Linked DNA regions of Homo sapiens: region 2 is linked to region 1. Evidence: fine-mapped expression QTL. A gene starts in region 1. The other region holds a variant in brackets. All regions are shown on one strand. Distances are between the middles of the regions.

Region 1 (2,500 bases):
AAAGCAGCATTATCCAGCAATTATTAGCTCAGTGTATTTGAGCAAGCTACAGTGATTATCCTTTCTAAATCTTTGTTTTTTCATCTGAGGAAAACAAACAGAAGTCATATCAACTTCACAGGCTTTTGTGAGGGTAATAGGTGTGAAAGTAGATTGTCAATTATAAAGTATTAAGCAGAGAAGTTATCATTATTATTTATTAATAAGATGAAAATAAGGATCCAAAAGGGAGGATCTCCAAAAGGGAGAAAGGAGAATGAGATCTATCAAAGTGAGAAATAGAGACAGTAAAAAGAGAAAGAGGGAAACAGAAAAGTTTAGGCAGGGAACAGAAGGAAGGTTAGTACCTTCAGCACTTCCTGAACTTTCCCAGCCACCTGTACCATGGTGGTCAGAATGGATTCGCTGTAGAGTCTCTGTAGGGAATATGCAGGAATGAGAAGCCAAGAAAAGGAGGACGATGAATGGGGGAGGGGGTCTCAGGGTTTCCGATATTAGGAGCCATGGTGAGGGAGAGCAGAGGTGGGGTTGGGGTTGGCATGTTTATTTCCAGGGTCCAGGTCTTGGGTCTTGGTTACCTGGTATGTGGACAGGGCTTGCCCCTCCTCCTGGAAGATCTCAGCATCACATTGCCCTAGCAGTCGAACAATGTTCTCAGCATCTGCTTTGTCTAGATCCTGGGTCAGTGGGTTTGACTTCTCCGTGATTGGCACAGCTGCCTCGTACCCAGACAACTAGAAGGAAGAGGGGACAAGGATGGAGCAGGAAGCCAAAGCCTCATTCATGCCTGCTGAGCTGGAGGTGGGAGTGGCAGCAGGCACAGAGTTTGGACTTACACACACGCACACACATACCACACCAGAAACTCAGCCTGCACTTGGTGCTCTGGGCATATTAGGGAAAGAACATCAGGAAGGAAGAAGAGGTGAGCAGAAACCAGCGGGGAGGGAAGACTGGATGAAAAATAATTCTAGGAATCAGCACAGAAAGCCAACATGAAGAAGGGGTCTCACCTCCCACTTGCCAGGCTCCGGGGTCTCAATGACATGTTGAAACCGTTTTGTGCCTGGCATGGTCCCACGCTGTGGATACACTGTTCCTCCTGCCTCTTCAGCCACACAAACCCCTCTGGTCACAATGACTCTGCTTCCAGTTGGCAGGGCCTTATCTGAGCCCCAGTGATGATTAACCCAAGCACCCTGGGCTCTCAGAGCACCACCCTTTCCTGGTCACTAGGCCCCCAGCCCTCTGGTAACCCCAGGGAAACTCCTGGGCTTCCTCTTTGCAAGCACCCTGACTCGCCAGCCTCTGCTTTGGCCCCTGAAGAGGAAGACCTGAGGCTCGGGACTCTTGCCCTACCGGGACAATGCCCTCTTCTACAGAGGACCTGGAGCCTGGGAGTGCAGGACAACACCCACGGCAGTGAGAATCCCTGGGCAAGTGTCCTCCGAGGCCAGAGATCAGGGTCACCAAGTCAGCACAAGTCAGAGGACCTGGCCCATGGCTTGATCACATGCTCAGCACACACAGTCAGTCCCACTGGTCCCATTTTATCCTCTCCTCTCAGAAAGGAAGGCAGTAGAAGCTTCTGAGCCCCAAGTGTGCACACACTGTACTGGATATTACAGCGGGAAAAATCCCACAGAAACAGAAATACTGCATTGAGAATTAGAAACCAAAGAATCTGCCCTAAATACAATGTTAGCCAACATTTATTTACACTGAACAACACACTTTTCACAGACAGTATCTCATTGGATACACCAACACTAAGATGTTGGTCAATATTGACACCCTCATTTTTCAGATGATGAAACAGGCTCAGAGTAGTTTAGTTGGTTGCTTAAGATCACACAGCTGGACAAATTGGGACTCACACCCAGGTTCTCAATTCAGATTTCAAGCTCAACCAAAGCATGATATAATGTAAGGGCTTACATGTTATTGAACAAAGAAGTAACTAACAGATTGGTGCAAATTAATCTCCATCATCCAGTCACATAGTGTTGTGAGATTTATAAAGATCTTTCCCGTCTCATTTGAGCCTCACAACAACCCTGTGAGATTTCACACGCTTTGCTTTACAGGTGGGAAACCTGAAGCACAGATAAACCAGTTTCTCCAAAACCACACCGTAAGTGGTAGAGCTTTAGAAAAACAAAAAAAGAAAAGAAAGGAATAATAATTTTTTTAAAAAAGCCATAGGTCTTTGCGCTTTGATTCTCCCGAGAAGCCCAACACTCTTAACAATCACTGTATCTCCAGGTTTTAATATAATGCCAGACACATAGGAGATGCTCAATAAATATTTGGTGAATAAATGAAAGAATGAATGAGAAAGCGAACGGAATTAAATGAGATTATGAATGGAAAAGAGACTTAAAAGCTGACGCAGTCTACAAGTAAGGGATTGTTAAAGCAATTATTATCTCCCTCACTCTCTCCCCTCTCCTGTTAGCCCCTCGGGCACTGGAGGTGGAATTCCTCTTCCCAACTTGGC
Region 2 (2,974 bases), 24 kb before region 1:
AATGCAAGGCTGGGCACAGTGGGTCACACCTGTAATCCCAGCACTTTGGGAGGTCAAAACAGGAGGATTACTTGAGCCCAGGAGTTCGAGACCAGCCTAGGCAACACAGCAAGACCCCATCTCTACAAAAAATAAAACAAATTAGCTGGGCATGGTGGCACCTGCCTATCGTCCCAGCTACTCAGGAGGCTGAGGTGGGAGGATTGCCTGAGCTCAGGAGTTTGAGGCTGTAGTGAGCCGGATGGTGCCAATGCACTGCCCTCCAGCCTGGGTAACAGCGTGAGACCCTGTCTCTAAAAAAAATAAAAATAAAGAAAAAAATATAATGCAAACCACATATGTAAGTTTAAGTTTTCAGTAGCTGCATTAAAAAAAGAAATAGGTGAAATTGGCCAGGCACAGCAGCTCACACCTGTAATCCCAGCACTTTGAGAGGCTGAGGCAGGTGGATCACAAGGTCAGGAGTTGGAGACCAGCCTGGCCAATATGGTGAAATCCCGTCTCTACTAAAAATACAAAAAAAAAAAAAAAAATTAGCTGGGTGTGGTGGCGCATGCCTGTAATCCCAGCTACTCAGGAGGCTGAGGCAGGAGGATCACTTGAACCCAGGAGGTGGAGGTTGCAGTGAGCCGAGATCATGCCACTGCACTCCAGCCTGGGTGACAGAGTGAGACTCCATCTCAAAAAAAAAAAAAATGTGATTTCACCTATTTCTCCTGACCTTGTGATCTGCCCGCTTTGGCCTCCCAAAGTGCTGGGATTACAGGTGTAAGCCACCACACCTGGCCTGAAATCAATTTTAATAATATATTTTATTTAACCCAATATATAACCCAATGTAAACAATATTAAACATTATTAGTCAGATATTTTGCAATATTTTTCTATATTCGGATTTTGTATTTTGAAATCCAGTGTGTATTTTGCAACTAGAGCACACCTCAATTTGTTTTTTTGTGGCTTTTTTTAATTTTAATTTTATTTTTTGAGAGATAGTCTCACTCTGTCACCTAGGCTGGAGTGCAGTGGCACTATCTTGGCTCACTGAAACCTCCACCTCCCAGATTCAAGCTATTCTCCTGCCTCAGCCTCCCTAGTAGACAGGACTATAGGCCTGTGCCAACATGCCCGGCTATTTTTTTATTTTTTTTATTTTTAGTAGAGACGGGGTTTCACCATGTTGGCCAGGCTGGTCTCGAACTCCTGACCTCAAGTGATCTGCCTGCTTCGGCCTCCCAGAATGCTGGGATTACAGGCGTGAGCCACCGTGCCCAGCCAGCCCACCTCAATTTGGGTGCTAGATTTGCAATGCTAAAAAGAGAAATGTAGTCCTACCAAAATATTAAAGTTACATTTAATTTAAAAAGTATACAGCTTTGGTTTTTACATAAAATTAAAAATTCAGTTCCTCAGTCACATTAGCCACATTTCAAGTGCTCAATAGCCACATGTGGCTGGTGGCCAATGTTTTGGACAGCGCAGGTCTAGCTGCATTTGGCAAAGTCCAAATTCCTGCCTGGCTTTAACCTCCCACATCCCTCCCCTTCCTACTTCTTCACAATCCCTCACTGCGCTCTAAAGTGACTTGCCACTCTGGTTAGACCTGTGTCCCTCACATATCATGCCCAGTCCCCCTTCTGGGACTTGGTGAATGACCTAACAGGAATGCTCTTCTGTCCACC[T/C]ATCCAAGCCATAACCACCAGGCCTAGCTCAAAATACCACCCCTTCCATGAGGCCTTCTTTTTGCTATAATGCATTCTGACCCCCACCTTCTTTATACCTCCACTGGACTTCAGTAAGGACCATAGTTTATTTTGGGGACCTGGTGGGTGCTCACTAAATGTTCATTGATTGATTCCTTTCACATAGGGTTGCCAGATTTTGTGAATAAAAATACAGGACATCCAAATATATAATGAAAAAAATCAAAAATATCTCAAATATTGCATAGGGCATACTTGATGGAAAAATTATTCCATATTTATCTGAAATTCAAATTTAACTGGGCGTCCTGTATTTTTATTTGCCGAATCTGGCGACCCCATTTTCATGACCATCTGTTGTGCCGTCTGCTCAACATCCACTCCTTCTGGTATCAGCACCTTGGTTTTCCTCTGAGGATCTATCGCTTCCCCATGCTCAGGTAATGAGGTTGGATTGAGGCTCACCTCCCAGCCCTTCTTCCACCACCATCCTGAAGGGAAAGCACATGATCCAGACTGGGCAGAGCATCCCTTGCTCTGGAGAACAGTGATTGCTTCAGGGACATGCATGTGTCCCAAGCAAGAGCCCCCAACCAGGCATTTGCAAGAACCACAGGACAGGCAAGCTCTTTGCCCACTAGTGTTGCTACGTAAATTGTCAGGCTGGCACTACTGGTGGCCAGTTTGCCACCTAATGGAAAAAACTTGCCTAAGAATGAGAGCAACGGCCGGGTGCAGTGACTCACGCCTGTAATCCCAGCACTTTAGGAGGCTGAGGCAGGTGGATCACCTGAGGTCAGGAGTTCGAGACCAGCCTGGCCAACATGGCAAAACCCTGTCTCTGCTAAAAAATATAAAATTAGCTGGGCATGGTGGGGGGTGCCTGTAATCCCAGCTACTCGGGAGGCTGAGGCAGGAGAATCAATGGAACCTCAGAGGCGGAGGTTGCACTGAGCTGAAATAGCACCGCTATACTCCAGCCTGGGCGATAGAGCAAGACCCCATCTCAAAAAAAAAAAAAGAATGAGAGCAACACAGGGGAAAACAGAGTTAAGGGTGGAAAGTTCTGGAACACATTAGATTCAGCTGCCCTAAGATTGTTCAGTTATATCAGCCACCATTTTCTTTGTTTAGCTTAAACCAGTATAAACTCGTTTTCCATCACGTTTGTAACTGAAAGAGTCTTGCCTAATAATTACAATTTCACAAACACACCCATGTGTGCACACACACTCCTTAAGGGGAAGATGCACCTAATAGGAGGAGCAGAA

Alleles and levels. Positions count from the first base shown, and alleles are read on the strand shown. Sizes are in standard deviations (SD) of each study's normalised expression.
For the expression in thyroid of the gene that starts at base 1,139 in region 1, allele T in region 2 goes with a lower level than allele C (moderate effect, 0.45 SD a copy in GTEx).

What was found.
Region 2: its variant is fine-mapped to the expression of GCKR in thyroid (GTEx, PIP 0.95).

What each region holds. Positions count from the first base shown.
Region 1 is chr2:27,495,478-27,497,977 of GRCh38, reverse strand. GCKR (glucokinase regulator) reads right to left here and starts at 1,139. Exons shown (of 19, transcript NM_001486.4): 1 at 1,014-1,139; 2 at 579-734; 3 at 348-416. The coding sequence starts at 1,073.
Region 2 is chr2:27,519,057-27,522,030 of GRCh38, reverse strand. The region is part of intron 17 of GCKR (glucokinase regulator); the gene reads right to left. Among named protein-coding and RNA genes, the nearest start is that of SPATA31H1, 17 kb to the left of the region's middle. The variant T/C (reference allele first, on the strand shown) is at 1,683.